Regions from separate parts of the Homo sapiens genome. Here region 2 is linked to region 1. Evidence: fine-mapped expression QTL. A gene starts in region 1. The other region holds a variant in brackets. All regions are shown on one strand. Distances are between the middles of the regions. Region 1 holds the start of CDC27 (cell division cycle 27). Region 2 overlaps LOC101927060 (a long non-coding RNA gene).

What was found. PIP is the estimated chance that this variant, and not a neighbour inherited with it, causes the effect. A credible set is the group of variants that fine-mapping cannot tell apart.
Region 2: its variant is the best candidate, but not a certain one, in a credible set for the expression of CDC27 in skeletal muscle (FUSION, PIP 0.70).

The regions. Positions count from the first base shown.
Region 1 is chr17:47,186,504-47,191,885 of GRCh38, reverse strand. CDC27 (cell division cycle 27) reads left to right here and starts at 2,591. Exons shown (of 19, transcript NM_001256.6): 1 at 2,591-2,740. The coding sequence starts at 2,714. It also overlaps a transcript of MYL4 not described here. RefSeq lists enhancers at 2,667-2,856, 2,387-2,983 and a silencer at 3,017-3,066.
Region 2 is chr17:47,000,576-47,005,957 of GRCh38, reverse strand. The region is part of intron 6 of LOC101927060 (a long non-coding RNA gene); the gene reads left to right. It also overlaps a transcript of LRRC37A2 not described here. Among named protein-coding and RNA genes, the nearest start is that of RPRML, 24 kb to the right of the region's middle. RefSeq lists a silencer at 461-755. The variant TG/G (reference allele first, on the strand shown) is at 2,714.

The DNA of each region.
Region 1 (5,382 bases):
CACATACAAGACTTGGGTTGGCAGCATGTTGTGTGAAAAAGAGCTGAGTCCGTAAATGACCACACAAGTTTAGCATGAGCAAACAGTGTCATGTGACTGCTAAAAAATGTAAATACAGGCTGGGCACAGTGGCTCACACCTGTAATCCCAGCACTTTGGGAGGCCGAGATGGGTGGATCATGAGATCAGGAGTTTGAGACCAGCCTGGCCAACATGGTGAAACCCCGTCTCTACTAAAAATACAAAAATTAACCGGGCGTGGTGGTGCGCACCTGCAATCCCAGCTACTCGGGACGTTGAGACAGGAGAATTGCTTGAACCCCGGAGGCGGAGGACGCAGTCAGCCGAGATTGCGCCATTACACTCCAGCTCTGGGCAACAGAGCAAGACTCAGTCTCGGAAAAAAAAAATGTAAATACAACTGTAGTCCACTTTAATAGACGTGTCCAGATAATAATAGTCCAACTGCATTCTGAATTATTCAGAATAAATCTGGAGTACTGTGTTCAGTTGAAAGGGTCACATTTTAAGAGTGATAGCTCTTACTTATCCCTTTCTTTCCATTCCCAATCTTAGATACTCTCATCTCATATCTAGCGTGGTAGATTGTTTCCAAAGATGACCCAAAAACTCCTCCCATGGCACACGCCCTTTGTGGTGTTACTTTGCCACTCTTCCCATTAAGAAGTAGACTATTCCTCCTGGTGAATCCAGGGTGGCTCTGAGTCTTACTCTGACCAACAAGAAGTGATGCTCACAGGCCTAGGCCTAAGGGACCTCACAGCTTCTATTTTTGCGCACTTTGTTGTCAACCACCAAGTCAAGAAGCTGGAGCTAAACTACTGACTCATAAGAGGCCAGTGTGAAAAGAGAGGTCATGCAGAGAAGAAATGAAGGACCCAGCCAATAGCTACCACTGACACCCTAGACATGTGAGTGAAGCCATCTTGAATCTTTCAGCCCTAGCCAAGCCAGTGCTGGTGATGTTCTTCTATATCTGTGTGACTGTCCAATATGGCAGTCACTAGCCACATACAGGGCTACTGAATCCTTGGAATGTGGCTAGGGCATCTGAAGAACTTCATTTTTAATTTCATTTTAACTTAAACTTTAAATAGCTAATGGCTACTTTCCAGGCCAGTGTAAAAGTCTGTTACCACTCAAGTCATCCAGCATAATCCCGCTAAAGCAACTGGGCACAGGGCAGCCAAAAATCATCTTAGCACCTGCCCTTTAGGGGCTATAAGTATATATACAGTGACAAGACAAGGCGGTGGAGAAGGATGCAGTGTAGCTCTGTCAGCCTTGTTTTTAAAAATGAAAGAAAAAATATCTCCCTCTAACATCACCCAAAGGGAAATTTCCAAGCAATGGAATATATCATGATTCTCACATCTAGCCTAGAGAGCTCCTGACTAGAAAAGTAACTTTCAAAAACTGTTTCCTCATCTGCTGAAAAACAAAATTTAAACAGTCCCCTGGTTCACTCTTTTTGGGGGGAGAAGGGGAGCAGAAAGGAAATATGAGAGAGTCTACATTGCATGCTAGACACGGCCACATTTATAATACATCGAATTCTCTTAATCCTTTTTTTTCAAACTAAGCGAACATAAGTTCAGAGAGGTAATTTGCCAAGGACCTATGACTAGTTAGTGCTAAAGATAAAATTCAAAACCAGGCCTCTGAATTTCCGACCCCCTACTCTTCCCACCACAGCGGAATGCCTCACCTATCAAAAATAAAAATTTCTAATGGCCTATTGAGCTTTTCCATGATCTCTTCACCTAAGTAACTATTTCCAATTAATGCCTTCTTAGCAGACTGATCCCATTTTTCCTCCCTTCACTTTCCTATACTTCTTTTTCCTCTAATTTTACCCATCCTTCAAACTCCATTTTAAACTTTTTTTTCCTTCCATAGAACTTTCCTTATCTTATCACAATTGCCCTCTCTGAATTTTTATATTACTTATAATAGGCACCATATAATATAGCGTTCTCTGTTACACTGCTTTTCCCTTAAATAGACCTTAATCTCCTTGAAGACAGAAGCTATCCTATGTCTTTGGGGAGTGGCAATCTTTCCAAATTTCTTTAGCTTTCCCCCAGAGCCGTGAGTAGATACTTCTGGAATGGACGAATGATCTAAACTCAATAGACAAATACTTGTTGATTCATTAAAGACAGCCCCAAACTCTGCTGTTTCACCCTTTGCTTCATAATCTACAGCACACCAATTAATCCAAAAGGGCTGAGGGGCTAATCCACACTGCAGCCCCGCCACGTAACGCTACCCGCCCGCGCTGTCACGCCACGCCCAGCCTGCTGGTTGCAGATTTGGCGTAGCCCAACCCTGGGACGGCCGATTGGGCGTGGTGTGCGTGGCTGAAGGCGTGGCTGAGAAGAGAAACCTACGCTTTGGGTCAGACTCGGTAGCTTCCGGTAATCTTCGACAATTTCCGGCAACGGTTTTCTCTCTCGTCGACCAACCTCGGGTATTTCCGACTCCCTTCGGGCTTTTCCGTCTGGTTCCCGCTCGGCTTTCTCCACTTCGGGTATTCCCGTGTCCCGCTCGGAAGCACTCGGCAATCGCTCGGCCTCCCCCATCCCCCGGTAACGGTCGCTGGTGAGTTTAAATGAGCAGGGGCTGGCCGGGCCGGAGCCGCTACAGGGGGGGCCTGAGGCACTGCAGAAAGTGGGCCTGAGCCTCGAGGATGACGGTGCTGCAGGAACCCGTCCAGGTAATGATAACCTTCTTCTCTGGGGCTTGGCTGGCAGCCTCGGTCGGGAAGCAGCAGCGTAGGGCCACTCCGCGGCCTGGTGCGGCCTAGGCCCGGCTGCTTCTCCCGCCTCCCCTGCTGCCGTGTCCTGCCTATCTTTAGTCAGTTCGGAGGCCTTGCCCACAGCCTAAGCCGTGTTACCTCTGGCCCTACATTACTTCACCCTTAGCGTGAGCGGCTTCGGCGAAAATAACCGCCTTTCCCGTCCGAGCCAACGTCCGGCCAGCCTTTCCTGTCAGTCCAGGGGCCTGGCTTGACTGGGGGTGGGAGATGAGGGGCCGAAAATGCACCCCAAGCGCTCTCTTGCCTAAAAGATGATCGAGAAGCACATTTGATCGGAGCTTGTGTGATCTTCGTGACGGTAGGGCAAGTTTACGGAGGTTTTTTTTATTTTGTCTTGTATGAGAGGGTGGAGGGAGCGTAGGATCGGTCTTTTTAATACTAATTTCTATTTTGGTAACAGACTTCCTATCCCACGTTTCCTTTCTCGGTGAATTTCCCACCGGACAATGATGGTTTGAGAAGACAACTCCAAGCCTCAGTGCTGAGGCGCAAGCACCAATACCAGGGGAGGAGGTGGAAAGGGCACATTTGGGTTGTTTTCATCCTCTCTGATGGGGATCAGGAGCATTTTGTTGTGCATGTTTATAAGGCATTCAGGAAATGAAACACAAATAATGGTGTTTCTGTCCATTTCACTGCCTTTACACCAGGGTATGCTTTGACGCACAGTGCTGTGTTGCATTAAAGGAACCCTATTGGATTTTAAGTGTGTGATGCGGTGCCAAGTCATTTTCCCCCCTGACATCTGGAGAAACTGTATCTTTTGTGCCTTGGTAATGGACCAGGTCTGGGAGACTTCATCCCACTATATGATCTTTAACTTGATCAGAATTGACCTCTATCAACTGCTGTCATTGAGTCATGGACTTTATTTTGAAGTTATAAAGCAAACTGATTTTTAGAAATTCCTTCATATTGCCCTTAAAAGGCTTGAGGTATCAAACAGTAAATATTTTAATATATCACTACTTTCATATTTATTTCATTTTTCTAAACAGCATGAAATACTCATTTCTTCTAGTTTGGTTTTTTTCTCCAGCTGTTTACATATAGCAGCTATTAGTGTTTGAATTAATAAAACGTAAGATTATATCTTATGAAATTTACCTGTCTGTAAGTTGTATTAGTTTTTCTAGAGCTATTTCCATCCAAATTCTTTTTACCAGTATAGTTTCTTTTAAGATTTTTTTTTATTCTGGCTGTAGATGAGGTAATTATATATATATAATTTTTTAAGGCCTAACATGAACTTAAATAGATAAGCAGATTACTCAAGTTATTTAATTTCTGTTGCATATTCTTATAATTTTGTTTTAATAGTTAATGATTTTTTTTTTTTTGCCTTCTCTGGCCCCAGAAGTCTTCTAAAGTGATAAACTAGTTGCATTGATAGACTATAACCACCATTTAATAATAATTTCAGACTTTATAAAAGCATGGAAGGCCGGGCGTGGTGGCTTACACCTGAAATCCCAGCACTTTGGGAGGCTGAGGCGGGTGGATCACCTGAGGTCAGGAGTTCGAGACCTGCCTGGCCAACACAGTGAAACCCTGTCTCTACTAAAAATATAAAAAATTAGCCAGGCGTGGTGGTGGGCGCCTGTAATCCCAGCTACTTGGGAGGCTGAGGCAGGAGAATTGCCTGAACCCAGGAGATGGAGTTTGCAGTGAGCCGACATGGTCCCGCTGCACTCCAGCCTGGGCGACAGAGTGAGACTCCATCTCAAAATAAATAAATAAATAAAAAATAAAAGCATGGAAAAGAAAAGGAATATGTAGCCTGTTTCTAGATAGTACCCATCAGGTTTCCTGTTTGTCCTTAAAGTACTCTGAGCAGTAATACACTTTGATATTTTTAAGGCTTAAATGTCAAATTTGCTTCTTTTTCATAGCAGCATTGTCCATTAGATTTTTGAGATAGTGGTAGAAAGTTTTAGGATATGACTAGGTGAAAATTTTGGTTGTATAGTATAAGAAGCCATTCAAGAATGGATTTGGAACAGTGAGAAGAACAAGCAACTTTGGCTACAATGATAAAGATCAATGATCAGGGATAGTGCTGCAAATGGGAAAGAATTAGGAAGAGAATAAAAATAGGACAGATATATAAGATACTGTCTTTATTAAAAAAAAAACTATGATGACAGATTGCGTGTATTTGGAAAGCAATGAGAGTAAGTTGGAAAATTGTTCTTTCTTGGAATGCCTCAGAGTTGATGGTATTACTAGGCATAGGAAAAAGTTCACAGAAAATATGAAGAACTGTTTTCTGCATTTTTTTTTCTTTAAAGTTTTAATGTAGAATGGCCAGTCCGATATACCATATATGCCTAAATTAAAACTCCGTCTCAAATTACTACCTCTCAGAAGAGTATTACTTTATATTTGAGTCCTTACAAAAGTCTCACATATGAGGCAGAATTTCTGTCAGTTCTTTTATTTTTAATGGTAACTATTTGGAAAGACACACTAGCCTAAGTGACTTCAGTGAGAGCTTTTTGAATATTTATAAAAGTCACCTGGTGAAATTGGTTTTTAAA
Region 2 (5,382 bases), 190 kb after region 1:
AAAGATTTTTAAATAGCAGGTTTCTAAAACAATGAGAAAGACAGCATTACATATCAGTGTCTACAATTTAACCAAAGCTATACTTAGAAGTAAATTCATTGTCTTAACTGCTTTTGTTCCAATAAAACAAAATAGCAGGATCCTGAGGCTTTGATGCTATTTTCTTAATCCAGCTGGTCTGTGGAGAAGCCTGGGACAGAAAGAAGCAGCCAGACTCCAGAATCCCCCATTTTAATAGCTATTCTATGCTATGTCCCCGTCTTATTCCTGGCAACTTACCTCTCAGCTCGTGCACTGTGACATTACAGCAAGAAGTACTAATATAAATGACACAAAAGAAAAAAGAAACCATGAGGTTTTGCTTGTTTTATTAACTAGGTGGGCATTGTAAATGTGGAGGGTGGGAAACAATCAGGAGACAGGAATCCGATGAGCATCTGCCATGTATCAGGCACTGCGCAATGTTCCTTACATACCACGATCCCATTTAACCCTCAAAAAACACTGCAGAGGGCTATCACTGCCTTCCTTTTACATACGAAAAAACAGACTTAACAGTTGCTCACGGGAAGCTGAACCAAGAATCAAAACAAAAGACTTTCGGGCCTCAAAGACTGCACTGTTTCCACTGCACAAAGTTGTCTGCACTGTGAGCAACAGAGGAGGGGAAAGGGGACTAAAAACCAAAACCAAAAATCCAATAAATAAAACAAAATAAATGAACTGAGCATTCAACACAAAAAGTTATAAGGAGCAGAGGAAAACATTTCCAAGGAAAACAGGAAGAAGCAAAGCTTAAGAATAAAAGCGTGACTTACACATTTACTTGGATCCAGGGGAAACTGTTGGGGTGAGATGTTAAAAACAGAGTTAGGAAGTGACTGGAGAACTTGTGTATTACATTCCACTTCCTATGGACCTTGGGTCCTTCTCTGTAACACTAATATTGGACTAAATTCTTCAAAGTTTCCTTGCAAGGACAGGCCACTCTGAAGCTAAGGGGTTACCACCAACCAAGAGACTCCTTCAGTAATAACACAGTAGGTAAATTACCCCAGAAGGTAAATATGACTGATTGTCTTACAGTAGCAGGTTTTAAAATCTTGTTGTCTCAAAAGCATTGCTATGGGCCAGGTGCAGTGGCTCACGCCTATAATCCCAACACTTTGGGAGGTTGAGGCGAGAGGATTCCTTGAGCACAAGAGTTCAAGACCAGCCTGGGCAACATAGTGAGACGCTGTCTCTACAAAAAATAAAGTAAATTAGCGGGGCATAGTGGTGTGTGCCTATAGTTCCAGCTACCTGGAAGGCTGAGGTGGGAGGATCACTTGAGCACAGGAGGTCAAGGCTGCAGTGACCTATGATTGCACCACTGCACTCCCCAGCCTGGGTGACAGAGCAAGACCCTGTCTCAAGAAAGCATTGCTAGACACTTTCTTCCATAAAATTATATTCTGCCCTGAGGGAGGCCCCCAGTGGGACTGTGCAGTGCCACCCCTGCTGCTGGCCCCTGAGGGCAGCAGGCAAGGAAGGAGCATATGTCTGTGCTGTGGGAAGTGCCAGGGAAAAGCCCCTGGATTGGGTTACCGTGAAATGCAAAGTGAGTGAAATACAAACATACCTTTAAAAAGGTAAACTAGTTCAACCATTGTGGAAGACACTGTGGCGATTCCTTAAGGATCTAGAACTAGAAATACCATTTGACACAGCCATCCCATTACTGGGTATATACCCAAAGGATTATAAATCATGCTGCTATAAAGGCGCATGCACATGTATGTTTATTGTGGCACTATTCACAATAGCAAAGACTTGGAACCAACCCAAATGCCTATCAATGATAGACTGGATTAAGAAAATGTGGCACATATACGCCATGGAATACTATGCAGCCATAAAAAAGGATAAGTTCATGTCCTTTGTAGGGACATGGATGAAGCTGGAAACCATCATTCTCAGCAAACTATCGTAAGAACAAAAAACCAAACACTGCATGTTCTCACTCATAGGTGGGAATTGAACAACGAGAACACATGGACACAGGAAGGGGAATATCACACACCGGGGCCTGTTGTGGGGTGGAGGAAGGGGGAAGGGAAAGCATTAGGCAGTATACCTAATGTAAATGACAAGTTAATAGGTGCAGCACACCAACATGGCACATATATACATATGTAACAAACCTGCACATTGTGCACGTGTACCCTAGAACTTAAAGTATAATAAAAAAAAAAGGCAAATATAGACCTTAGTGAATGAGTCTGGGTCATGGCTGGATGGGAGAAATCCCAGGGTGAGCCAGCCCAAACACGCCATCCACGTAATTAAAAAAAGAACATGCTACCCCAATGGTCAGCCCTGTGAGAAACGCATCCTTCCATCCAGCTAAAATCTGCCCATGTCCATCTTCTCTGCTCAACACCAGTCCCCATGCATTGGGCGACAGAGCACTGTACCCTCCTGCATGGAGTGGCCAGCCACTGGGCTTCAGAGCCAAACAAACCTGGGCTCAAAGCCCAGCCCTGCCCCCCTGTTGTGTGATGTCCAGGACAGTGGTGCTAGTAGTTGATGTGCTCATCTGCCCCACCTCTGCCTGGCTGTACTCGCAGCTAGTACATGTATAGTATATAAGTGCCCGACTGTATCATTGTATGTTCCAGAGTGGTCAGGGTCAGGGTGGTCATGGCTGAGCTTTTTTTTTTTTTTTTTTTTT[TG/G]AGTCTCTATTGTCCAGGCTGGAGTGCAGTGGCACCATCACGACTCACTGAAGCCTCAAATTTCCTTCCGGCCTTAAGTGATCTACCTGCCTCAGCCTCCTGAGTAGCTGGGACTACAGACCTGGACCACCAAGCCTGGCTAATTTTTAAAAATATTTGTAGAAGTTGGGGGGGTCGGGGGGCTCTGTTGCCCAGGCTGGTCTCGAGCTCCTGGCCTCAAGTGATCCACTTGCCTTGGTGCTAGGATTACAGTTGTGAACCATCACACCCAGCTTCCTTGAGCTTTTATACAGAACTCGTCTTTGAGTTAGTTTCTGTTGTATGTTCTAGTTAGGGCATTATATTGATTTTTAAAATTACTATCATTCTGAATGAATAACAAATTGTGGTACATTCATACAATGGAACAGAACTCAGCAATAAAAAGTAATGTGGGGAGGTGGGGATGGTTAATGGGTACAAAAAAAAAAGAATGAATAAGACCTAGTGTTAGAGAGCACAATAGGCTGGCAATAATCAATAATAATTTAATTGTATATTTAAAAATAACTAATGGCCAGGCGTGGTGGCTCATGCCTGTAATCCCAGCACTTTGGGAGGCCGAGGCAGGTGGATCACCTGAGGTCAGGAGTTTGAGACCAGCCTGACCAATCTGGTGAAACCCTGTCTCTACTAAAAATACAAAATTAGCTGGGCCTAGTGGCACGTGCCTGTAATCTCAACTACTTGGGAGGCTGAGGCAGGAGAAATGCTTGAACCCAGGAGGCGGAGGTTGCAGTGAGCCAAGATAGCGCCATTGCACTCCAGCCTGGGCAAGAAGAGTGAAACGCTGTCTCAAAAACTAAAAAAAAAAAATAAAAATAAAAATAATTAAGAGTGTATAATTGGATTGTTTGTAACACAAAGGATAAATGCTTGAGGGGCTGGATACCCCACTTTCCATGATGTGATTATTATGCATTGCATTCCTGTATCAAAACATCTCAGGTATTCCAGAAATACATACCCTTACTATGTACCCACAAAAACTACAATTAAACATTTAAAAAGTAATGAACTATTGGCACACAAAGCAACATGGATACATCTCAAAATAATTATGGTGAGTGAAAGAAACCTGACCAAAAAAATACACACTGTATGATTCCGTGTCTAGAAAGCACTAGAAAATATAAACTAACCTATGATGACAGAAAGCAGATCAGGACCAGGCGTGGTGGCTCACACCCGTAATCCCAGCACTTTGGGGGGCCGAGGTGGGCGGATCACTTGAGGCGAGGAGTTCAAGACCAGCCTGGCCAACATTTGTACTAAATACAAATACAAATACAACATTTGTACTAAAAATACACAAATTAGCTGGGCGTGGTGGCAGGTGCCTGTAGTCCCAGCTACTCGGGAGGCTGAGGCAGGAGAATCTGTTGAACCTGGGAGGCGGAGGTTGCAGTGAGCCGAGATCTCACCACTGCACTCCGGCCTGGTGACAGAGTGAAACTCCATCTCAAAAAAAAAAAAAAAAAAAAAAAGGAAAAAAGAGAAGAGAAAGAAAGCAGATCAGTAGTTGCTTGGGGGTGAGAGGGAAGTAGAAAGGGCAGGAAGCAGGATCACCAAGGGGCAACAAGGAAATTTTTTGGGAGGATGGCTTTCTTCACTATCTTGATTGTGATAATGATTTCAGCTGTATACTAAGGCTCAGATATTATCAAATTGTAATCTCTAGGCAGTTTATTATATGTCAATACCTCAATAAATCTGCCTAAAATGTTCAAAAATTACTGTAATTACACAAAATACATTTTATAAAAAGGAAGTCATGAGTGGAGCATGGTTGAGAACCCCCCAGCATCTGGTAGATTCAGAAGTGGGGAAAAGCATCTCTCACTTCCGCTTTTTCAGGCCGGCGTGCTGTGCAATTTATCCAGTGGCCACTAGAGGACAGCAGCGACTCAGGTACAGGAAGTGGGCGTTTCAGGGCTTCAATACTTAGTATTCCTTGCTCTGTGCTCCCTATCCTGGGAGGTGGACATTAATACCCCCATAATACTCAGTTAGAGCTGAGACTTGGGCCTTGGTCTCTGGCTCCTTATTACGCCTTGTTGGTCCCCGAACACCGGGAGTGCAGGAAGGTCGCCCAGACTGGAGTTCTGTGGCACCATCTCGGCTCACTGCAACCTCCACCTCCTAGGTTCAAGCGGTTCTTCTGCCTCAGTCTCCCAAGTAACTGGGATGACAGGTGCCCACCACCCCGCCCGGCTAATTTTTGTATTTTTAGTAGAGACGGGGTTTTACCACATTGGTCTGGCTGGTCTCAAACTCCTGACCTCATGATCCACCCGCCTCAACCTCCTAAAGTGCTCCCAGATCTTTTTAAAAGAATGTCCTACTCCAGGGAGGCAGCAGCCATAGTTCCCTGTTATCTGCAGGGCTGATATGGAGGATTGCAGATGGCACCAAAGAGTTGTGGTTCTCAAGGTGACTTTGGAAGGCCTCCCACCTTGCCTGAAACCCACGATTATAAAGCAGGTCAAAGTTGTATCATCAGATGCTGCAAGTCATAAGTTAGCATGTCAGTGAGAAAATGACCTACTGAAGGGTCATTTTTATAGGAGAGAGGGAAAGGAGAGAAGGTTCAATTGAGGAGTAGAGAGACATGATGGTGGAGTGCCCA